Linked DNA regions of Homo sapiens. The protein of the gene in region 3 interacts with the protein of the main gene of each other region in a pairwise test. Each region holds a gene or a part of one and is shown on either strand. Other genes may lie near its edges.

Region 1 (7,849 bases), 9.9 Mb from region 3:
AACGCTTGAACCTAGAAGGCAGAGGTTGCAGTGAGCGGAGATCGCTCCACTGCACTTCAGCCTGGGTGACAGAGCAGGACTCCATCTCAAAAAAAAAAAAAAAAGAGTAAATTGAAAAGTAGAGCTGGTATGTTTTTCATCCAATTACTGGGTTTTTATCAGGCCCATGGCCTAATCTGTAAATTTTAGGGCCTAATTAATATTTATTTTTCACGGCCCTTACCAAAGACAGCCAAATAAAGTTTGGCAGTTTGGGTGGATACATACTAGGCTCTTACGAAAAAATACTAAATGAGGTGATTTCTTTTTTGCCTTTTCAATAACAAATATATTTCAGCAGAAAGACTGCATTTATCACATTAACTAATAGTTTTCTCTGGAAATTGAGTCCGCACTTTAAGGAGTCCAACAACTTAAATATACTTAATAAAGCTCCTGTGCTGAAATTCCCATTTACTGTAAATAAGTAAAAGAACAATGTGCCCTTCCTCTGCAACTCCCTCAAACCAAACATCCTCCTATACTTTTCTCAATCTACTGCCTGGAGAAGCACAGCTCACCTTTAGAGCACACCCCTCATTAAGGTCATTCCCACTCAGATCATTTTGGAGGGAAGAATTAAAGCATCCAAGTAGCTAAATCCCGGCTGCTGCTGATTTGTATGCTCCAAGGGAGGAGATGGCTTAAAAGCAGGAGTGTCAAAGGAAAATAAAATGGAAAATTAAAGTAGTTCAATTGCCATGAAAAACTATTTAAAGTGTGGCATTTTCTCCTTTTCACCTTTGCAGAATTCATCTAGTTGAAAATACTTGGCTCATGCCTGTAATCCCAGCACTTTGGGAGGCCGAGGCAAGTGGATGACCTGAGGTCAGGAGTTCGAGATCAGCCTGGCCAACATGGTGAAACCCCATCTCTACTTAAAATACAAAAATTAGCTAGGCATGGTGGGCGCCTGTTATCCCAGCTACTCGGGAGGTTGAGGCAGGAGAATCACTTGAACCCGGGAGGCAGAGGTTGTAGTGAGCCGAGGTCATGACATTGCACTCCAGTCTGGACAACAAGAGCAAAAACTCCATCTCAAAAAAAAGAAAGAAAGAAAAATTTCTAAAGTGATGTAAACATTTTTTACAAGTCTGTAAAGTATTGACTGAAAACCAGTGTAGTACAAATGTATATAGAAGTGTTGGGTTGTAAAGGAGTGATGAGAGTGGAGGCTGACTGAAGAAACTCTTCAGGTGAGCTAAAAATAATAAAAACCCTTACTAGATCCAAAGAGTCGGGTTGCACTGCTACCCAAAGTTAAGAAAATGCCCCCGCCCCCCTTTTCTTAAGACAGACCAAGACTCTGTCTCCAAGGCTGAAGTGCAGTGTTGCCATCATGGCTCACTGCAGCCTCAACCTCCCAGGCTCAAGAGATCCTCCCACCTCAGCCTCCTCAGCAGCTGAAAATGGCCTTGGTGGCTCCTCTCTCCTTAAGATCTTAGGATTTGTACCAACTCATCAGTAGTTTTACAATCTGCACAGTACTTGTACATCTCATTTCATCCCCACACCAACCCTACCAGGCAAGGATCACTGGCCTCATTTAACAAGATAAAGATGAGGATACTCCTAGTTTTGCTGAGTCCTTTAAGACGGCTCAGTTGAAAAAGTAATAGTGCCAGGGCTTAAACCCTCATCTCTAACACCAAAGCCTAAGCTCTTCCTGTTAACAGTACATAAAATTCAAACCCAAACCACAAAATTGCTGGGGAAAAAAAAAAAAACTAAAACTTCTTTAACCCACCAACTACACAGAGGATGATCTTCCGAAGTTCTCTTCCTTACAACTCATCACATCTTTTGAATGGTATTTTAATAACTAGCATTCTATTTATTTTCTATTCTTGGTCCATTGTACCACCTTACGAGAAGTTAAGAGTAATCTAAAATTTAAGGTAGGTCTCTAAACTATCAACAAAACACTATTAATGTACCTAAAATGAAAACTTGCGAATTCCAGGGCTAAATGATTCAAACAAATGTTAATAGAAAAGGAGGGCACCAATCTGACCATTAGCCAATTTAAAAATTTACGCATTACTTGTTATACATAATCAGGGCAACTTTAAGACGCCATTCCAGGCAGATTTGGGGTAGTAGGCGGCTGGCTTTTAGCTAACTCTGCTTAGCTGCGGGGTAAATGTCAAAGGTCAGCCCCATGGCGAATCTCCCTAAGCCCCCTGTCGCAACCGAAGCCGATGGAATCAACAAGACAAAGATGCTCCTGACCCACTGGCTAGAATCGTGAAGAAAACGCTAATCCATGTCAAATGCACATAAGGAAATTTTTCCATGCAGAGACCAGACAGGGGAAAAGGGGAAGGGAGAAGGAGAAAATACAGGGTTCGACCCGGGCCATCGGAAGACAACCAAGCGCTGACTTGGGGGTAAGCCCTGGACTAGGGGCCTGTAGACCAGGTTCGAGCGCTCACACTCGCTAACTGCGGAGCCTTGGCCAGCCTCAGTCTCCGAGTCTACAAAACAAGGATAATCATAAAGGGCTCCCACCCGCCTCACCGAGGGCTGTGAGGCTCTTCCGAGACAGAGGACATGGAGCCATTTCGTAAACCGGAGCGCACGGTACAGACAAGAAACTGTTATCCGGCCCAGCAGCTGCGAGACCCCCGAGCGGAATGCAAGTGGACCCCAGGCAAAGAGGACAGCAGGGGACGGAGCAGATCTGGCCAAGTTGTCCCGTCCCCGCCCAGAATCAGCCCCGCGGCCCCACAGAACCGCCTGCGTGTCACTTCCCCCCCACCCAACCCCGCCAGGGCCAGCCTCCGCTCCGACCTCCCCGCCTTCCGTCCCAGCCCCTCGAGCCCCAACTCCCCTCCCCGACGCGACCCTCAGACTCACGGCCTGAGGGGCTCCTCCGGCAAAACAGCGGCTGGCTCGGACCCTCCCTCAGAGCACACTAACCAGCAGCACCCGGGACCGCCAGCTACTCGCCGGATGTACGTCACACCCCTCCCCGGGACTTCCGGGCGCGTAATGGGCCCCGCCCCCTCACAGCGTTACGCCTCTCTGCCCCGGTGCCGTCCCACCAGCGACTCGGGCCGCGGAGGGGCGGGCATAAGGCGTGACAAAGCGCGCTCGGGGTCTGGCCCCGCCTCGGCCCCGCCTGCTCCCGTCTGGCTAGCTGACCGCGCGAGACGTGGCAGCGCCGGAACCCTGGGTCCGGGGCTGGGTCCTGGAGTCCCTGAGCGGCCTGGTACACTCGGGATCGCGGCTTCCCATTCCAGACGCACCAGGAAAGTCAGAAGTGGGTACCGACGGTGACATAGGTCCTGGGAAAGATGAGTTGACCTTGGGGCCCTCCACTTGAGGTGGATCCCTCCAAGCTTTTGCTTTTTTTCTTCCTTGCTTTTTTTTTTTTTTTTTTTTTTTTTGAGGCGGAGTCTCACTTTGTCGCCCAGGCTGGAGTGCAGTGGCGCGATCTCGGCTCACTGCAACCTCCACCTCCCGGATTCAAGCGATTCTCATACCTCGGCCTCCCGAGTAGCTGGAACTACAGGCGCATGTCACCACACCTGGCTAATTTTTTTGTATTTTTACAGAGACAGGTTTCACCGTGTTGGCCAGGCTGGTCTCGAACTTCTGACCTCAAGTGATCCGCTGGCCTCGGCCTTCCAAAATGCTGGGATGAGAGGCGTGAGCCACCGCGCCCAGCTGCTTTTGCTTTGAGTCGCACTTCCTTGCCCTGGGGTGGCCTATGTTTTAGAAAAACAGAAAAACAGCTAATATTTATTGTGCACTTATGTTCCAGGCAGAGCACTGGGTACTTTGCACGCTTTGTCTAATTTCACCGTCATTGGAGTCCTGTGACTCCAGATGCTAGTATTATCCTTATTGACAAATGAGAGAGCAATGTTCAGAATAACCTACCATGCCCAAGTTCACACAGCTAAGTGGCAAAGCAACGTGTTCACCCCAGTATATTTCGCATGCATTTTCTCATTTAATTCTCAGGACAGTCCCACGAGATTGGTACTATTATTACTCTCATTTTACAAATAAAACAGTCTAATGGAAAGATGAATGACGTCTGTGGGTTCATGAAGATCTCAATTCTCCTTTAGTAAAATTTAAATTTAACATAATCCCAATAAAAGTACTAATAGGATTAATAGGTCGTGTGTGGTTTCGTTCTTTTTTTTTAATTACCCTATTTGTTCCTAAAATTCGTATAGAAAACCAAACAAAACTAGTCCAGAAACAGGCTTTCAAAATGAAGAACAAGGAGGTGGGAACTAACCCTGTTGGATATTAAAACATATTATAGAGCCTAAGTTATTAAAACTGGTGTGCGTGCACATGCACAAACACACACACACAAAAAACACAATGGAACAGAGCAAAGTACAGAAATGACTAAAGTACATGCAGAAATAAAACTAAAGTAGCACCTGGGACTCCAGCAATACTCAGGGAGCTGAGTGGGCAAGCTCACCACCCTCTACCCTCCGCTCATCCTGGGGTCTTAGATGTTGAATTTGAACCCTGTCCTGTCACAGAAAGGTGTCAGGCCACTTCTGAGGCTTCTCACCAGCTTTAGCTAAACCAGGGACAATGTGTCCATGGGGCTTGGAACCCCTTGTGCATCCTGGAGACACAGATGCAAGCCCAGTGCAAGCCAACACATTGGATTACTGGCTTTGTTGAGAGCCTGGCTGCACGAGGTGGAGGTGTCTGAACCACAGGATGGCTTGGGAGGCTGGGGAAGGAGGGAACATGCAGGCAGATTCTCAGAAAAGCCGCAAACTCTACTTACCTAAAGGCTTGAGCAAGTTGACGAATGCCCCAGACCACCATGTACCCACTGTAAAATGGGTGAAACAGGCATTGTTGTGCACATAGTTTTTCCAGAGTACTGTTTTCAATAAATGATTCTGTTATGTGTTGTTAAATAAATTAATAAATAATAAAAGGGGTTGAGACAATTGGGTAGTCAAAAAAACCTACAGGTTGAATCTCCAAAAGTTTATTACTCTAAACAAGTTTCAAGTGATGAAAAGATGTGTGTATTTTGAAATGACACTATAAAGGTACTAGAAAAACAGAAGAAAGCATGGATTCCTTATAATTTTGCAATGAGAAGACCTTTCTGGGTATGATTGAAAATCTAGACCGGGCGTGGTGACTCATGCCTGTAATCCCAGCGCTTTGGGAGGCTGAGACTGGCGAATCACAAGGTCAGGAGTTCGAGACCAGCCTGGCCAACATGGTAAAACCCCATCTCTACTACAAATACAAAAAATTAGCCAGGCGTAGTGGCAGGCGCCTGTAATCCCAGCTACTTGGGAGGCTGAGGCAGGCGAATCGCTTGAACCCCTGCGGCAGAGGTTGCAGTGAGCCGAGATCACACCACTGCACTCCAACCCCGGGCAACAGACTGAGACTCCATCTCAAAAAAAAAAAAAAAAAAGAAAGAAAAGAAAATGTAGATGCCATAAAAGAAAAGATTGACAAATTTAACTACATAAAAATTAAAAACTTATATGGCATAACAACAATCATGACACCATAAGCAAACTCAGACAAATGACAAGTTGAGAAAAATAATCACATCATAGGCAAGTAAGAAGTATGAAAAAGACTAACAACACAATAGGAAAATAGGCAACAGTTCAGAACAGATAATTCATAGGAAAGGAAATAAAAATGACTTTTCTTTTTTTTTTTTTTTTCTGAGACCTAGTCTCACTCTGTCACCCAGGCTGGAGTACAGTGGCGGTCTCGGCTCACTGCAACCTCTGCCTCCAGGATTCAAGCGATTCTCCTGCCTCAGCCTCCTGCATAGTTGGGATTACAGGCATGAGCCACCGAGCCCGGCTAATCTTTGTATTTTTAGTAGACATGGTCTTTGTATTTTTAGTAGAGATGAGGTCTCACCTTGTTGGCCAGGCTGGTCTCAAACTCCTAACCTCCAGTGATCCGCCCGCCTAGGCCTCCCAAAGTGCTGGGATTACAGGCATGAGCCACTGCGCCTGGCCCAAAAATGACTCAAGCATAATAAAATAGTAATAGAAATATAGATACTATAGAAAATATAAATATAGATATTATAGAATAATAGATATAGAAAATATATAAATCCATTTATTTGTCTATGTATCTCTGTATAGTTATATCTATACTGAAATAGAAATAGATTTTAAAAAATAAAAGATAAATTTGAAACTTACTGAGATACCATTTTCACCTGTCAGATTGGCAAAAGTTCACCAGTTTATTGGTGGGAAGGCTGTTTCAGATAGAGAAGTCAGACTGGGCATGGTGGCTTATGCCTGTAATCCCAACACTGGGAGACCGAGGCAGGAGGGTCGCTTGAGCCCAGGAGGTTGAGGGTACAGTGAGCCATGATTGCACTCCAGCCTAGGCAACAGAGCGAGACCTTGTCTCTAAATTAATTAATTAATTAACTAAATCAAATACAGAAGTCAAGAAAGGCCCCACCCAGGTGCTATTTGGATAAGAACATGAAGGACATTACATGGCTGTCAGGGTAGACTGTTCCAGGCTGACAGCAGAGGCCCTAAGGCAGGAGTGTGCCTGGCAGTTTCCAGGAACATCTGGGAGGCCAGTGTGACCAGGCAAGGTGAGCAACAGAAGGAGTGGTAGGAAATGGGGTGAGGTGTTTGTGGTCAGAACTGTGGAGGTTCTGGGGTTCTACCTAACTTGCAGGTTAACAGGTTAGCCTGACACAGTCTCAGATGCTGGCAGTCACAGGACTCCTGGATCAGAGACAAACTATGTTATTACTTCCGGCATAGCGAGCAGCATGAACTTCCTGTTTGTGTTACTTCCACTTGCCCCTTCCTCCCTCCTCCTTTCTGAGGACAATGGGGTGACACAGAGCAGTCTGAATGGACACTGCCCATTCGATGGTGTGCAACACAGCTGAGGAACCCAGAACTTAGGGAACCCAAATCTTTCATAATGGCTGCAAGCGGACCTGCCTGAACTCTGACCCAGTGGGAAATGGTATGACACTGGGCAGTATACAGACCTGTCCCCTGCACCAGAGGGACACTGTCTTCCAAGGCTGTTCATTATATAAATGTCCTTCAAAAGATAGTCCAAACAAAGGCAGCTGGCACCTCTGTTTGAAAGAAGTGCAAAAATCAAAGAGCTTCATGGAGAATTGTCTCTTAACAGGAGGCAAATCTTGAAAGCCTTGTAGGTGAGGACTTTAGCTTTTATTTTTGGTGACCTGAAGAACCAATGGAGGGTTTGAGGGGAGGCATCTTATGTAATTCTTCCCCCGACTGTATGCTTACTCCTTTACATATTCTCAGCATTAGATAGACAGGGTTATTCCCACCCTTGCCAGCATCTGCTTTCCCCCTTTTCTCTTTGAGTACCTCTTTCTCCCTTCTTTGCAGAGGCTTTTTAGGCTTTGGCTCTGGTGTGGAGGAGCAGTTTTAGTGATAACTTTGCAGATCTTCTCCGTGGTTTGTCCTTCACCTTGGCTTTAACTTCCTTAGCATCCCCTTCAGCCTTTTTCTTGGGCTTGATGCAGTGGAGGTGGGGAATACGCACTGCCTGCAAGGATGCAGCCAATACCAGCTTTGGTTTGTCCAGGAGTTGCTGTCACTTGTTCTTCATATTACTCTTTATTTTTCCTTTTTTTATCCTGCTTGATAAAAAATCTTTCTTATTTTTTAGAGGCAAATTCTTGCTATGTTTCCCAGGCTGGACTCAAACTCCTGGGGCTCAAATGATCGTCTTGCCTGGGCCTCCCCAAATGTTGAGATTATGGGCGTGAGCCACTATGCCCAGCTAGCTCTGGTTTTTGTTTTTGTTT
Region 2 (7,070 bases), on a different chromosome or scaffold from region 3:
ATTTTTAGTGGAGACAGGGTCTCACCATGTTGACCAGGCTGGTCTCAAACTCCTAACCTCAAGTGATCCTCCTGCCTCAGCCTTCCAAAGTGCTGGGGTTACAGGTGTGAGCCACCATGCCTGGTCATTTTTTATTTTTTGTAGAGATGGGGTCTCACTATGTTGCCCAGGCTGGTCTCAAACTCCTGGGTTTAAACAGTCCTCTCATTTCAGCCTCCCAAAGTTCTGGGATTACAGGCATGAGCCACCATGTGTGTCCTTTGCTTAACTTATAAATTCATCCCACTTGGTGCTGTGGTGGGGACACTGTGTCACAGGGGCTCTGCTAACCAAAGGTCCCATGAGCACCTCATTTCATGGCTGGGTAAACCGAGGCCCAAACATCTCAGGGCAAGGATTTCAGCCTGAGGGCTGTTTGTCCTCTCTGAGCTTTGGTTTTCTTTCTTTTTGAGGAGGGTGGGGAGACTGGGTTCTTGCCATTTTGCCCAGACGCTGGGCTGAACTTGTGATTCTCCCACATTGGCCTCTCAAATAGATGGAAACTCGGCAAGTCTCAGTTTTCTTAAAAAAAAAAAACAAAAAAACAAAAAAACCAGACCAACCATTGTTCACTGAGCTGGTCTCTAGCACCAGCACTGTCACCCTGAAGTCTGTCCCATCCTGCCCAGTGTCCTGCACGTGGGGTTCCCCACTCTGGTGGCAGAGTGGCCATTGGAAGTTTGGTTTGTGCCCCAGTGTTGGGCCAGCCCCCTCTGGACAGCTAGTGGGCAGAGCTGAGGGTAGGAGTGGGGGCTCAGGGGAGCGGGTGCCTGTTTGAGCTGCCAGGTGACAGGCTGCATGTCCCTGGACCCTGGCAGGGAACGGGCTGTTGAGGAAGAAGACGCTGGTCCCAGGGCCGCCAGGTTCGAGCCGCCCGGTCAAGGGCCAGGTGGTCACCGTACATCTGCAGACGTCGCTGGAGAATGGCACACGGGTGCAGGAGGAGCCGGAGCTGGTGTTCACTCTGGGTGACTGTGACGTCATCCAGGTGCGGGCTGGGGCGGGACAGGGCAGGGGCGAGGGGCGTGCCTTGCTGGGTCTGAGTCTGCCTGACAGCTGGCTATCCCCACACACCCCAGGCCCTGGATCTCAGTGTCCCACTCATGGACGTGGGGGAGACGGCCATGGTCACTGCTGACTCCAAGTACTGCTACGGCCCCCAAGGCAGGTGAGAGTCAGCCACCCTTAGGTCTCTGCAGGTCTCAGGAGGGGGATGGGTGGAGTGGGTGTACCCCTCGGCTCACCCCATCTACTTGCCCATTTTATAGACAAGAAACTGAGGCTGGGTGAGGTGGCTCACACCTGAAATCCCAGCACTTTGGGAGGTTGAGGTAGGAGGATTGCTTGAGACCTGGAGTTCCAGACCAGCCTAAGCAATATAGACCGCATCTCTATACAAAAAAATTTAAAAATTAGCTGGGTGTGGGCCGGGCGTGGTGGCTTACGCCTGTAATCCCAGCACTTTGGGAGGCCAAGGCGGGTGGATCATGAGGTCAGGAGATCAAGGCCATCCTGGCTAGCACGGTGAAACCCCGTCTCTACTAAAAATACAAAAAATTAGCCAGGCGTGGTGGTGGGTGCCTGTAGTCCCAGCTACTCTGGAGGTTGAGGCAGGAAAATGGCGTGAACCCGGGAGGCGGAGCTTGCAGTGAACCGAGATTGCACCACTGCACTCCAGCCTGGGCAAGAGAGCAAGACTGTCTCAAAAAAAAAAAAAAAAAAAAAAAAAAGCTGGGTGTGGTGCACACCTGTAGTCCCAGCTACTGAGGAGGCTCAGGCAGGAGGATCACTTGAGCCCACGTTTTTGAGGCTGCAGTGAGCCAAGATTGCACCACTGCACTCCAGCCCGGGCAACAGAGTGAGAACCTGTCTCTTAATAAAAAGGAGGAAAACCGAGGCTTAGGGAGGGGAACTCGTTCGTCAAGTCCCGCAGCTCCAAGGCGGCAAGTCACTTCCCCTGCACTTTACTGAGGAGGGAATGATGGAGGGCAGAGGGGAGACAGATCGGGGGCTTGAGCCAAGCTCACTCCTTCCTAGCCAGCCCAGCGGGTTTAGGGGTCACCAGGTCTGAGTGCTGCCCCTGCCTGCTCCCACCCAACTAGCAGGAGCCCATACATCCCCCCGCACGCGGCCCTGTGCCTGGAGGTGACCCTGAAGACGGCTGTGGACGGGCCTGACCTGGAGATGCTCACGGGGCAGGAGCGCGTGGCCCTGGCCAACCGGAAGCGGGAGTGCGGCAACGCCCACTACCAGCGGGCGGACTTCGTCCTGGCCGCCAACTCCTACGACCTCGCCATCAAGGCTATCACCTCCAGCGCCAAAGGTGACCGCCTGGGTCAGATCTCCACCATCTCCCCTGCAAAGGTGTCCACTCCGTGCCAGAAACTTCCAGCCCCAGAGAGCCTCAGACTCAGAATATTCTAGAATAGCCCAGAATATGGGTAGATCCCCAACTGCCCCTAAGCTAGGGCCTGTTACAGACTCGTGGTATATCCCAGACCAGTGGAGTGTTGTAGAATGCAAGTGGATATGGGGATGGGGTGACCATAGACAGGGCCAGTTCACATGTACCACAGGCTAGGCCCTCGCTTGCTTAAGTCTCCATCTTGTAGCTTCCTCAGGAGAGCCCCAGGAAAGCGTGGCCCTTGGTCCGGGGTTAAAATTGGGGAAACTGAGGCCAGAGAGGCAGCCTCCGCAGAGGGGTGGGTGCCGGGGTGTCTGGTGGCATGGTGACGGCTGCCGTGGCGGGCACTGTCTCCCAATAGTGGACATGACGTTCGAGGAGGAGGCACAGCTCCTGCAGTTGAAGGTGAAGTGTCTGAACAACCTGGCGGCCTCGCAGCTGAAGCTCGACCACTACCGCGCAGCCCTGCGCTCCTGCAGCCTTGTGCTGGAGCACCAGCCAGACAACATCAAGGCTCTCTTCCGCAAGGGCAAGGTAGGCCACACCGGGGTGCCAGGCCGGGTCACTCAGCCTGGGGTATACGGGGTGGTCCCCAACCCTGCATTTGAGAAAGGCATAGGTATATAAGCCAGCTGAGCTCTGTGGGGTGCAGGTGGAGAAACTGAGGCCCAGACGGGTGCAGGAGTGTGGCCTGGTCACAACAATTCATTGGCTGAGGCCAGAATTTGATCCTCGAGTCTTGGGTCCCCAACCTTTGGCCCAGTGTTTTTTGTTTGTTTGTTTGTTTGTTTCTTGAGACAGAGTCTCACTCTGTCACCCAGGCTGGAGTGCAGTGGTGTGATCTCAGCTCACCACCGCAACCTCCTCCTCCTGGGTTCAAGCGATTGTCCTGCCTCAACCTCCCAAGTAGCTGGGACTACAGGTGCGAGCCACCACACCCAGTTAATTTTTGTATTTTTAGTAGAGATGTGGTTAGCCATATTGGCCAGGCTGGTCTCGAACTCCTGACCTCAAGTGATCTGCCCGCCTCAGTCTCCCCATGTGCTGAGATTACAGGCCTGAGCCACCGTGCCCGGCTTGGCCCAGTGTTGAAACCTCCTCCCATAGAACCTCCATGGGTCCCAGTTTTCCTCAGAGTAAAGTGGAATCCTAGTCACAGCCCTTGGGGCCTTGAGTTGTCTGGTCTTCCCCCTCCTGCTATCACTTCTCCCACCTCACTTTCTGCTTCTCTCCATCCCACGTGGCATTCTCCCTTTCTGCTGTCTAGCCAGGCTCTCTCCACCTCAGGGCCTTTGCGTAGGCATTGCCGACTGTCTGAGATGTTCCTGACAGGCAGCACGTGGAGGTGACATGCCTCTTGTCCATCTACCTTACTCAAAGGTGGAGATTTGGTCTGTCTTGCTCACTGCCGGATCTCCAGCCTTGCAAACAGGGCCAGGTACATAGTAGGTGCTCAGTAAAAGTCCTGGCAGAGGCCAGGCACAATGGCTCATTCCTGTAATCCCAGCACTTGGGATTACAGGAGGCCAAGGCAGGAGGATCGCATGAGCCCAGACATTTGCGACGAGCCCAGGCAACATAGGGAGACCCCCTTCTCTACCCAAAATATACAAAAATTAGCTGGGTGTGGGGGCGCGGGCCTGTCGTCCCAGTTGCTCAGGAGGCTGAGGATGGCTTGAGCCCCGAAGGTCAAGGCTGCAGTGAGCCTTGATCACACCACTGCACTCCAGCCTTGGCAGCAGAGCAAGACCCTGTGTCAAAAACAAAACACGAGAACAGAAAAAAAAGTTCTGGCAGAACATAGGGGTGAATCTGGCTTGCACAGACTTGACCTTCATTCTCACCCCCTTTTCTGTTCATCCTCACAGCCTCACCCCTAGGTGGGGCTTTCAGGACCTTTTAGCAGTTAACGAAGGAAACTGAGGCACAGATACTGGCTCACCTGCTGTGTTTCTGAAAAGCCTGAGGTGGGGCTCCCTCCAGCTGGGATTTATTAAGGACATACTGTGTGCGGAGTTCTGCAGAGAAATATGAAGAGGGAGAAGATGCAGTTCCTGTTTTTGAAGGCTTTGTTCTCAACCTGGGGGTAGTATCCTCCTGGGGGCAGCAGGAGTGGCTGCTTGTGTAGCTTCATACAAGTTTGGACCTGCTGGTTGAAGGTGATAGAAACCCACTCAAACAGGTTCAAGCAGAAAGGAGGGATCGATAGCTCATGGAACTGCCAAGTTTGGATTAGCTGGCTTCAGGCATAGCTGGATCCAGGCACTCACAATATTGTGGGGATGCTGTTTCTCTGCTCTGACCTTCCCTCCTGGGCCGGCTCCTCTCTCAGGGTGACCATGATGCTCCCCCCTCCCCCCTGGAAAGTTACAGATTTCCATCTTCTACCCCCTCCTTTTTTTTTTTTTTTTGAGACAGAGTCTTGCTCTGTCACCCAGGCTGGAGTGCAGTGGCACGATCTTGGCTCACTGCAACCTCTGCCTCCTGGGTTCAAGCGAGCACATCCAGCCTTTTTTTGTATTTTTAGTATAGACGGGGTTTCACCATGTTGGCCAGGCTGGTCTTGAACTCCTGACCTCAAGTGATCCACCTGCCTTGACCTCCCAAAGTGCTGGGATTATAGGCGTGAGCCACTTCGCCCAGCTCCATCTTCTCCCCTTAGCAACCCATCTCCCATCAGCACCAGCATAGTGCAGGCTGGATCTCATTGACTCATTTGGGTCATGTGCCTGGTCCTGAATCATTCACTATGGCCAAAGCTTTGGAAACATCAGGGCCAGGTGTGGTGCCTCACGCCTGTAATCTCAGCACTTCAGGAGGCCAAGGTAGGAGGATCATTTGAGCCCAGGAATTCAAGACCAGTCTTGGCAGCATAGTGAGACCCCATTGCTACAAAAATTTAAAAAATAATTAAGGGCTGGGCGTGGTGGCTCACGCCTATAATCCCAGCACTTTGGGAGACCGAGGCAGGTGGATTGGTTGAGCCCAGGAGTTCGAAACCATCCTGGGGAACATGGCCCTGTCTCTAAAATAAAATAAATAAATAAGTAGGCCTGGAGCGGTGGCTCATGCCTGTAATACCAGCACTTTGGGAGGCTGAGGCAGGTGGATCACTTGAGGTCAGGAGTTTGAGACCAGCCTGGCCAACATGGTAAAACCCTGTCTCTACTAAAAATACAAAAATTAGCCGGTGGTGGTAGGTGCCTGTAATCCCAGTTACTCGGGAGGCTGAGGCAGGAGAATGGCGTGAACCCGGGAGGCAGAGCTTGCATTGAGCCAAGATCGTGCCACTGCACTCCAGCCTGGGCGAGAGTGAGACTCCATCTCAAAATAATAATAATAACAATAGTAATAATAATTTTATAAATAAATACATAAATAAATAATTCGTTGGACATGGTAGTACACGCCTGTAGTCCCAGCTCCTCGGGAGGCTGAGGCTGGAGGATTGTGTGAGCCTAGGAGTTTGAGGCTGCAGTGAGCTATGATCATGCCATTGCACTCCAGCCTGGGTGACCGATCAAGACCCTGTCTCTAAAGGAAAGAGAAAAAAAAAACAACAACCTCTGGAAGCATCCATTCGGCCTCTCGCCAGTGGAGGTGGTGAGGGAGGAGGCAGCGAGGTGGGTGCCTAGATCTGCAGCTGAGACAGGAAGGAGGAGCATGTTGCGGGGACCAATGCCAAGCTAAGTGTGCACTGATGGAGTTTGAGGGCTAGGAGAGCAGTTTGGGAGTGGCTGGAACCCAGGGATGTTGCCAGAGCTCCATTTGGCACTTGTATGAGTAGCCAGGAGCCTGGCTGTTTTTTTTGTTTGTTTGTTTGTTTTTGAGACGGAGTCTCGCTCTGTCGCCCAGGCTGGACTGCAGTGGCGTGATCTCGGCTCACTGCAAGTGCTGCCTCCTGGGTTCACGCCATTCTCCTGCCTCAGCCTCCCGAGTAGCTGGGACTACAGGCGCCCGCCACCATGCCCGGCTAATTTTTTTGTATTTTTTAGTAGAGACGGAGTTTCACCATGTTAGCCAGGATGGTCTTGACGTCCTGACCTCTTGATCCGCCTGCCTTGACCTCCCAAAGTGCTGGGATTACAGGTGTGAGCCACCGCGCCCAGCCTTTTTTTTTTTTTTTGAGATGGAGTCTCACTCTGTCGCCCAGGCTGGAGTGCAGTGGCACGATCTCGGCTCACTGCAAGCTCCGCCTCCCGGGTTCACGCCATTCTCCTGCCTCAGCCTCCCGAGTAGCTGGGACTATCAGGCGCCCGCCACCTCGCCCAGCTAATTTTTTTTGTATTTTTAGTAGATACAGGGTTTCACCGTCTTAGCCAGGATGGTCTTGATCTCCTGACCTTGTGATCCGCCCGCCTCGGCCTCCCAAAGTGCTGGGATTACAGGCATGAGCCACTGCGCCCGACCCTTTTTTTTTTTTCTTTTTTTAAGACAGGGTTGCACTCTGTCACCCAGACTGGGGTGCAGTGGTGTGATCTCGGCTCACTGCAACTTCTGCCCCCTGGTTCAAGCAATCCTCCCACCTCAGCCTCCTGAGTAGCTAGGACTACAGGTGCATGCCACCACGCCTGGCTAATTTTTGTATTTTTTGGTAGAGACGGGGTTTCTCCATGTTGGCCAGGCT
Region 3 (4,457 bases):
TTCAGTATTCAGTACTACTCTACATGCTGTACAGGTTTGTAGCCTAGGGGCAACAGACTGTATCATATAAACTAGGTGTGTAGTCGGCTCTACCATTTGGTTTGTGAGTACACCCTATGATATCTGCACAACAATGCACTCACCTAATAGTGCATTTCTCAGAAGGCATCCCCATTGTTAAGTGATGCATACCGGACTTCATGCATTTAAAAAAATGCCAGAACACTCCTTACTTAGTGCATAGACTTTATCAAATGTTGAATAAAAACAGAAACAAAAAGGAGACAATCCTACAATGAAAAGGAGACACTCAGGTCCACCCTAGTGATTCCTTGTATGTGGAGGAGGTAAGTGGGACATGGACAGTTCTAAAATATAGTACGTATATACCCGACAACCACAGTGTTTTGCATTTCTTTATCAGTGAAAAACAAACTGATATCTGAAGTGTATAAACAGTTCCCTAGTAGTCTATTTGAGAAAAAGTATCAAATGTGCATCAATATGTTAAAACTGACAAATACAAGAAAAGCATTCAGCTAGAGAAAATTCACAGCATTTTATTCAAGTTAATCAATTTCATTCAATAATCTGCCATATTGTTCCCAGCACCACTATTACTGTTATTATTTCTCTTTGAGGAAGACCAGGTATTAAGAAATCTGGTTTGAATTTCCATGATGCCTAACTCTATGGTTAAAAATCCTTTTCCTTACCAAAAAGGAACTTCTTAATCACCAGAGAAACAGAGGGAAGACTGAGATATGTTTGCAGAAATTTATCTCTACCAGAGACAATTCATAGTTCATAATCTTTCAGGGTTGTGCTTTACTTGGGGGCTCCGTTTTCGGGAGCGGGTTGTTTCCCATAAATGTTTGCTTAATACAAATAATTTGCCCCACTGTACCACAGAAGGGAAATGAGGGCTAGTGTCCCCAGAAAGCAAGCAGGCAGTCCTCCAGGGAAGAAGCCCTAATGGCTCCTAGTGGTGACAGAGTCATTCTGCCTCCCCAGCCTGTGAGCAATAATAAAGTATAACTAAGTGAACAGGAGAGGTAATAACTAGCCAGATAACCCATGGGCTAGAATCTCTAAACAGAAATGCTTGTGTTTTGAATAAATCAGAGCTGGAAAGACACACTTTTGGAGAAGTGATTGAGAATAGAAAGGTATGAAAAAGATAAAGGTTTCTCACCAACGAAACCACAAAAAAGGTGGTACCAGTCAAAGGTAGACTTGGGCTTTTATTTTGGGGTGAGGGTACCCCAAATGGGTTGTGCCATTTTCACATAAAAATTGGAATGATAATGAACAAGTGAAAGTGAAATCAGTTTCCCTCCTTTGTTCAATAAACATGGTTAGAGCACCTGTGTGCAAGATAGTGGGACAGGTGCTGAGGGGAAAGGTAAAGCTGTTTAAGCTGTGGCCCTGAGCTGAAGGAGCAATCTAGCAGTGCCATCAGGCCCTGCACACTGCAGAGCACAGTGTCCCAGGGGCCAGGTGGAGGGAAGGATCACTTCCGGCTGCAGCATCAGGGAAGGCACTCTGCAGTCTCCCCTCCAGGTTCTCAGCGTGCCTCTATGCCTGTGTGACTGCTCAGCCTGCCCCATTCCAGGCACTTGCTCATCTTCCTTATCTTTCTCTGTAGCATGAGAAATGGAAGTTTGAGAGGATAGGATCCTACCTCACAGGTACCTAATAAATGTGTGTGGAATTGACATATAGTGGAAGTGTCACTTTATCTTAGTGCAGCAAGGTGGAAAGAGCTTTGGAAAGGAGAGGAAAGATGGTGGTTGTGAGGGTAAGGTGTTTTCATCAGAAGGCGGGAGCAAGGGTATACAAACCAAAAAGTCAGTTTAGTATGTGGCTTAGCTCAGAGCACACGAGGGTACCAACACAGCCAAAGACTGTAAGAAGGTAGCTGAAGTCCTCTGCCAAATAGGATTGAAAAGCTAAAATCTTTCTCTGTTTCTTTCTTAAGTAACAACTGGTCTATTCAAGCTCAACCAGAGCATATAAGAGAAAAAACTGACTAACGAGGGGGTCTTAAAGAGCTTTGAAGGACAGTTTCTAGAAAGTAGAAAGATCACTGAGTAAATTACTGCACCTCCTCTACCCCACAAAAAAAAGGGTGAGGATGAATGTAAAAGTGTAGAGCAAGCTTTCAGACAACTTCAAGTTTGTTTTTGGCGCTTCCGTTTGTAAGCAATCAAGATGGTGAGAGACGCTATCCCAAAGAAGAAAGTCTGTAGGAACCAGAGTAGCTGAGCCCGACCACTTGTGATGCCTTTATGCCTAAAACAGAAAAAACAAAATTTAAACACGAGATGTTAATCTTACAGTTTCATGGGAGTTATTGTCTTCTATATATATATTTTTTAAATTATACCTTCCACTACTTTCATTGGGTTTATTTTGCTGCTTTTCTCTGGCTTATCTTGGATGGTTCATTTATTTTTCATCTTTCTTGTTTTCTAACAAATGTATTTTGGATGGTAAACTATTCCCTGAGAACTAGTCTGGCTACTGTCTAGGGCACAGTATTATAAGACTGTTTCTCATGTGATTCTGATGAGCGGATGGAGTAAAAAGCACTGGTATGGTTTCAGAGCAAATGTTTTGCAAATAGACCAGATATAAATCCTAGCGTGGCTACCTACCAGCTGTGACCTGGGCAAATCACTCAGAATCTCTCAGAATCAGTTTTCTCATCTGAAAAACAGGAACAGCAGTAGCTATCTCACTGAGTCAGTTGAGATGATTTATGGGATAATACACACAACATGCTCAGGAAGGAGCCTGGCACACAGTCATGATAAACACCTGCTTATATTGTCATTCAAATTCAACTGCCTAAAATGAAGTGCAAAAAAAAGATGACCCAATGGAAGGGAATGGCTTGCTACAGTCTCATCTGTACATAAATAAGTCTCACTTGGATGACTTTTATTTAAAACAAACTTTAAAAACAATATATGTAAAAGCAATATAATTTTCTACAGTAACAGATTAAAACAGAAAGATCATATGAATATCTTAATAAATGCAGAAGTGGCATTTGACAAATTTCTTTTTTTTTTTTTTTTTGAGATGGAGTCTCGCTCTGTCACCCAGGCTGGAGTGCAGTGGCGCGATCTTGACTCACTGCAAGCTCTGCCTCCCGGGTTGATGCCATTCTCCTGCCTCAGCCTCCCGAGTAGCTGGGATTACAGGAGCCCGCCACCACGCCTGGCTAATTTTTTGTATTTCTTTAGTAGAGATGGGGTTTCACTGTGTTAGCCAGGATGGTCTCGATCTCTTGACCTCGTGATCCACCCACCTCGGCCTCCCAAAGTGCTGGTATTACAGGCGTGAGCCACCACGCCCGGCTGCATTTGACAAATTTCAACATCCATTCTTTTTCCAACCCCCCCAGAGATGGGGTCTCACTCTGTCACCTACAGTGGAGTGTACTGGTACAATTATAGCTCACTGCAGCCTCAAACTCCTGGGCTAAAGCTATCCTCCCACCTTAGCTTCCCAAGTAGCTGGGATCATCACAGGCACGCACCACCATGCCTGGCTAGGTTTTTTGTTTGTTTTTTGTAGAGACAGTGTCTTGCTTTGTTGCCCAGGCTGGTCTTGAACTCCTGGCTTCAACTGATTCTCCCACCTCAGCCTCCCGAAGTGCTGGGATTACAGGTGTGAGCCACCTGCATCCACATCCAACATCCATTTTTAATAAAACTTCTCAGCAAAGTTAGAAATACAATGGAACTTCCTAATTTTGACACAGGAGATCTACAAAACTCTATAATAAACATGATGCAAAATGTTGAAAGTTCTCCTTTGAGGTCAAGAACAAGGCACACTTCTAGTCAGCACTGCTGGAAGTTCTAGCTAGTAGAATAAGGGAAGAAACATAAATAAAAGGTATACAGAATTGAAAGAAAGAAATAAAACTGTATTTCTGGACAGTTTTATACCTAAAAACTGAAAATAATCTATAAACTGTTACAATTAATAAATTTATTTAGCAAGATTGCTGGGTATAAGGTCAATATAAAAAATTGACTATATTCATACAAAGTACCATCAGACAATTAGAAAATGAAATGAAACAAAGGGAGCCAAGATCATGCCACTGAACTCCAGTCTGGGCGACAGAGCTAGACTCCATCTCAAAAAACAAAAACAAAAACAACAACAAAAGTTGGCCAGGTGTGGTGGCTCAGGCCTGTAATTCCAGCACTTTGGGAGACCGACGCAGGTGGATCGCTTGAGCCCAGGAGTTTGACATCAGCCTTGGCAACATAATGATACCCTATCTTTTTTTTTTTTTTTTGAGACGGAGTCTTGCTCTGTCGCCCAGGCTGGAGTGCAGTGGCATGATCTCAGCTAACTGCAAGCTCCGGGGCCTCCCGGGTTCATGCCATTCTCCTGCCTCAGCCTCCTGGAGACCCTCCATCTTTTTTTAA
Region 4 (5,619 bases), on a different chromosome or scaffold from region 3:
CCATCTTGCTTTTCTGTGGAACCTCAGAGGCCAGCCTCGACTTCCTGGAGACCCCCAGGTGGGGCTTCCTTCATACTTTGTTGGGGGACTTTGGAGGCGGGCAGGGGACAGGGCTATTGATAAGGTCCCCTTGGTGTTGCCTTCTTGCATCTCCACACATTTCCCTTGGATGGGACTTGCAGGCCTAAATGAGAGGCATTCTGACTGGTTGGCTGCCCTGGAAGGCAAGAAAATAGATTTATTTTTTTTCACAGGGCTCCAGTCTCTTGATGTGTGAGTGTTGTTGGGCTGGTCTTGGGCTGGTTCCAGGGAATGGAAGGGCTAAGAGATGGGCTTGGAAGGCAAGTTTCTGTTTGAGGCTCCATTTCCTTGCTGTGGAACCAAGGAACCTGCCAGCCCTGCTCCACCAGGTAGAGCTGGGAGGTTTCTATCGTCATCTGAATTAAACAGGGAAGGGACACTCGAGACTGGGGGACAAACAGGAAAAAAGAGCCAGCAAAGACTGGTAGTAATTTATTGTTACACACACACACACACACACACACACACACACACACACACACACACTAGGTTAACATCAACCACCGCACCATCCAGGCACTCCCCAGCCACCACGTGTGGGCACAAAGACACACACACCCCTCTTGGTAGGCAGATTTCCCTGTCTGCTCCCCTCTTCCTGTGGGAGAGGCATGCCTTCTGGGCAGTTTAAAGGTGGGAAGTTACAGGGGCCTAAAAAGGTAAAAGAGCAGCAGCTCTGCACTGGCCAGCTGTAAACAGTAAATAGGCCAGTCATGGAGGGTCCTGAATCCAGATCCTCAGGAAGGTTTTCACCAAACACCACAGTCCCATTTGATGTGATGCCCAGCCTCTATCCTTAAGGCATTTCCAGCGTCCCTGAGGCGCTCTGCTTAGACAACTGGCACAGAAGTGGTCAGGGCCTTGGCTGTGGCTCTGCCTCCTGCCTCACGGGAAGCCGGGGAGTGGAGCAGAGACCAGCATTAGGGAGCCTTGTGGCAGTGGTGAGAGGCTGCTCAGGAAGGAGCTGTGCCTCTCCCCTGGTCCTGGCCCCATGCCCTCAGCATCCTTAAGAAACACGGCTGTCCACCTTTTTCCCTGCAAGAAAACTAAGTCCATCCCTTATGACTGTCTCGGGCCCCAAAGGTGAAGGGCAGCTCCGGCAAGGGGAGAACTCCGATTGATTGGAGTCCCTGTTGGGGCAGTAGCAGGGTTCCACCCACCGCGGTCCTAGGCCTGGGGGCGAAGTCCAGGCCTGGCCACAAGGTTCAAAGATGTGTCAGACCCAAGCCGCTACCCCCTACTCCGAGGGCGAGGGCGGAGAGGCTCAGCCCCAGGGGCGGGGCCTGTAGTCGGAGGCCGAGCGGGCGTGGTCCGGGTAGTCCAGGCGGCTCTCGGTGGCAGTGAGCATGCGCTCCGGCTCCACCACGAACATGTAGTAGAGGTTCCACATCAGCATCGACAGCAGTGGCAGAAACGTCAGGCCGTAGCCGAAGCCTCGGAAGGAGCGGCCCACGGCAAAGGTCAGCCAGTAGATCAGCCTATGGGGGCAAGAAAAGGGTCAGGCTACTCTCGAGGGAAGCGCGTCAGCTGATTGGCAATAGGCTGACGGTGGGGGGAGTAGATAGGGGAGGCAGATGCAGTTGGTGGGTATGGCTGGTACTTCCAAATACAGCCAAAGTTTATGCACTTAACATGTATTAGGCACAGCGCTAATTACTATAAGTGATTGATTTGACTTCCCCACATCTTTATGAAGTTGAGTATGTTATTCCTTTCCCTCTTTTATTTACTTTTCGATTTATTTTTATTTTTTTAGAGACATGGTCTTGCTATGTTGCCAGTCTGGGCTCAAACTTCTGGCCTTGAGTGATTCTCTCACCTCAGACTCCTGAGTAGCTGGGATTACAGATGCGGGCCACCACACCTGGCTGTACAAACTTTAAAATGTTTGAGCAAATTCAATGAGTATAGTAAAATATCTTCCTCCCTTTACCGATTCCCACCCTATTCTCCCCCACCCCCACCCCAGGCATCAATATTATGGTTTCTTGTGCACTGAGTGATTTTTTAAATTATTATTATTTTTTTATTTTTGAGACAGAGTCTCTCTCTGTCACCCAGGCTGGAGTGCAGTGGTGCGATCTCAGCTCACTGCAACCTCCGCCTCCCGGGTTCAAGCAATTCTCCTGCCTCAGCCTCCTGAGTAGCTGAGACTACGGGCGCCCGCCACCATGCCTGGCTATTTTTTTGTATTTTTAGTAGAGATGGGGTTTCACCCGAGATGGTCTCAATCTCCTGACCTGATGATCCGCCTGCCTTGGCCTCCCAAAGTGCTGGGATTACAGGCGTGAGCCACCGCGCCTGGCCTATTTTTTTTTTTTTTTAAATTATAGATGGGGTCTCTGTCAGCCAGGCTGGAGTGCAGTGGCAGCCCCCAACTCCTGAGCTCAGGCAGTCCTCCCACCACAGCCTACCAAAGTGCCTTGGCCTCCCAAAGTGCTGAGATTACAGGTGTGAGCCACCATGCCCAGCAGATTTTTTTCTTTTATTTTTTTCTTAAAGACCAGTGTGCTTTTCTTGGAGAAAGAAGAAAAGAAGAAAGAAGGAAGAAGAAGAAGAAAGAAAGGAGGAAGAAGGAAGAAGAAGAGCCAGTGTGATAATACATTGAGTGATTTTTTAAAAAGTGCATATATGAGCAAAAAGTTATTTTTCCCTTTTCTGAAGTATGGCAGCATACTATATAGACTGTCTCTGCATGTTTATTTTTCCCCCATTTAATATATCCTGGAGATCATTTTATATCAATATAAAAATGGTTTTCTCATTCTTTTATAGCTGCAGTGTGTTCCATTGTATTTATCCTCTTGCAGATGAAGAAACTAAGATTCCAAGGGTTAAGTAAGACTGGTCCAAGATCACACATCTGGGAAATAGCAAAGCCATGATATGAACCCAAACCTGTTCATTACCTTCCCTTCTGCCAATTTGAGGGGCAGAGGTAAAGAGGAGAGCAAAGAAGCCACCTCTAGGAGGGCTTGAAGCCCAGAGGATGGGTCAGCCACAGATTTCGTGGAAGATATGTTCAATACACACCCCTCAATGGAGGGAGGGGAGAGCAACTTCCTCTTAATATATGAAGGATCACTTCTTAATATATGAAGGACCACTTATTACATGATTCATGTGCCTCTATTCTTTTTTACCTGTGAAAGGGAGGGAAGAGTAACTGCTGCTTCTCTTCTGCACTAGGAAGCAGCATAGTATAATGAACCAAGTACCAGATTGTTTTTTTGTTGTTCTTGTTATTTTTTGAGACAGAGTCTCGCTCTGTCGCCCAGGCTGGAGTGCAGTGGCCCAATCTCGGCTCACTGCAAGCTCCGCCTCCCAGGTTCACGCCATTCTCCTGCCTCAGCCTCCTGAGTAGCTGGGACTACAGGTACCCACCACCATGCCCGGCTAATTTTTTATTTTTATTTTTAGTAGAGACGTGGTTTCACCGTGTTAGCCAGGATGGTCTCGATCTCCTGACCTGGTGATCCACCCGCCTTGGCCTCCCAAAGTGCTGGGATTACAGGCGCCCATCACCACACCCGGCTAATTTTTTGTATTTTTATTAGAGATGGGGTTTTACCGTGTTAGCCAGGATGGTCTCGATCTCCTGACCTCATGATCCACCTGCCTTGGCCTCCCAAAGTGCTGGGATTACAGGTGTGAGCCACCACGCCTGGCACCAAGTACTAGATTGTTTTAAGTACTCTACATGAATTAACTCATTTAATCCTCATAACGACCTCATTTTACAGATGATGAAACTGAGGCACAAACTGCTTAATGAACTTGTCCATGGTAAAGAAGAAAGGACCCTGGATAAGAGAGGAAAAGGACCTGGATTCTAGTCCTGCCACTATTGCCGACTGACCTGAGCAACTCTCTTCCCCTAATCTGTTGTGATTTTCCCTTTGTAAAATGGGAAGCCTGGACCAGACAATCACTGAGTCTTCCTTTAGCTCCCTGATGATTTTTACTGCTTAAGCCAACTTCTATCTGAAACCAGTATTCCCCAGGAGTTTAAGATGGCAGGCTAAGTTACATGAGCAGGAACATATTTATTTTGGGAAAACCTATTGGGAGAAAATGCAAGGCTGCATGATGGTCAGGAGGCTGGTGGGACAACTGACTGCTGGACCACAATCAGAAGTGACAGGAAGACTAATTTTAGCTCAATAGGAAGAATATTTTATTTTAGCGAGCTACCTGGAATCCTGTATCAAAAGTAACAAGAGCAGGCCAGGTGTGGTGGCTCACGCCTGTAATCCCAGCACTTTGGGTGGCCAAGATGGGTGGATTATCTGAGGTCAGAAGTTCGAGACCAGCCTGGCCAACATGTTGAAACCCTGTCTCTACTAAAAATACAAAAAAAATTAGCTGGGCATGGTGGCTCACACCTGTAATCTCAGCTACTCGGGGGGCTGAGGCAGGAAAACTGCTTGAGCCTGGAGACAGAAGTTGTAGTGAGCCAAGATTGCGCCACTGCACTCCAGCCTGGGTAACAGAGTAAGACACCATCTCAAAAAAAAAAAAAGAAAAAAAAAGTAACAAGAGCATATGTATTAGGGAAAATGGAAAGAAAAGACCTGCATTTGGGTTAAGAAATTCAAAGGTGCCTTCTAGATTAACAGTAGTTCATGTGAAAATACCCCTAAGGATTTTTTTTTTTTTTTTTTTGAGACGGAGTCTCACTCTTTCACCCAGGCCAGACTGCAGTGGCGCTATCTCGGCTCCCGGGTTCACGCCATTCTCCTGCCTCAGCCTCCCGAGTAGTTGGGACTGTAGGCGCTCGCCACCGCACCCGGCTAATTTTTTTGTATTTTTAATAGAGACGGGGTTTCACCGTGTTAGCCAGGATGGTCTCAATCTCCTGACCTCATGATCTGCCCGCCTCCGCCTCCCAAAGTACCCCTAAGGATTTTAGGTGATGGCAAAGTCTGAATGAAAGGAGAGTAAGGGCCAGGCGCAGTGGCTCACGCCTGTAATCCCAGTACTTTGGGAGGCTGAGGCGGGCAGATCACCTGAGGTTAGGGGTTCAAGAACTGCCTGGCCAACATGGTGAAACCCTATCTCTACTAAAAATACAAAAAGTTAGCTGGGCCTGGTGGTGGGCGCCTGTAATCCCAGCTACGCGGGAGGCTGAGGCAGGAGAATCGCTTGAACCCAGTAGGTGGAGATTGTAGTGAGCTGAGATCCTGCCATTGTACTCTCCAGCCTGGGCAACAAGAGTGAAACACTGTCTCAAAAAAAAAAAAAAAAAAAAAAAAAGTGGAGAGTAAGAAGGCTGCGAGGAGAGCTCACACATCCTTGGTTTGTATGAAGAAAAGGACAGTACCCTCTACCAGGGCCATCCCCTCATTGACAAACAGGAAGAGAAGGACAGTACCCTCAACCAGGCCCCCCAACCTTGAGACCTCATCTCTATATTTTTTTAATTTTAATTATTTATTTATTTGTTTGAGACGGAGTCTCACTCTGTCACCCAGGCTGGAGTGCAATGGCGCGATCTTGGCTCACTGCAACCTCCGCCTCCCAGGTTCAAGCGATTCT

What was found.
Region 1: the proteins of TMEM254 (region 3) and SAR1A interact in binary tests that used the Homo sapiens proteins (3 or more experiments, as listed by UniProt).
Region 2: the proteins of TMEM254 (region 3) and FKBP8 interact in binary tests that used the Homo sapiens proteins (3 or more experiments, as listed by UniProt).
Region 4: the proteins of TMEM254 (region 3) and TMEM79 interact in binary tests that used the Homo sapiens proteins (3 or more experiments, as listed by UniProt).

What each region holds. Positions count from the first base shown.
Region 1 is NC_000010.11:70,167,515-70,175,363, forward strand, and holds the start of SAR1A (small COPII coat GTPase SAR1A), read right to left. Parts: upstream 3,001-7,849; 5' UTR 2,899-3,000; intron 1-2,898. UniProt on the Homo sapiens protein: Small GTPase that cycles between an active GTP-bound and an inactive GDP-bound state and mainly functions in vesicle-mediated endoplasmic reticulum (ER) to Golgi transport.
Region 2 is NC_000019.10:18,533,508-18,540,577, reverse strand, and holds part of FKBP8 (peptidyl-prolyl cis-trans isomerase FKBP8), read left to right. Parts: intron 1-857; coding exon 858-1,027; intron 1,028-1,118; coding exon 1,119-1,207; intron 1,208-2,141; coding exon 2,142-2,362; intron 2,363-2,804; coding exon 2,805-2,977; intron 2,978-7,070. UniProt on the Homo sapiens protein: Constitutively inactive PPiase, which becomes active when bound to calmodulin and calcium. Seems to act as a chaperone for BCL2, targets it to the mitochondria and modulates its phosphorylation state.
Region 3 is NC_000010.11:80,088,635-80,093,091, reverse strand, and holds the end of TMEM254 (transmembrane protein 254), read right to left. Parts: intron 2,713-4,457; coding exon of another isoform or gene 2,680-2,712; exon of another isoform or gene 2,661-2,679; intron 2,296-2,660; coding exon 2,175-2,295; 3' UTR 541-2,174; downstream 1-540.
Region 4 is NC_000001.11:156,287,325-156,292,943, reverse strand, and holds the end of TMEM79 (transmembrane protein 79), read right to left. Parts: intron 1,560-5,619; coding exon 1,346-1,559; 3' UTR 501-1,345; downstream 1-500.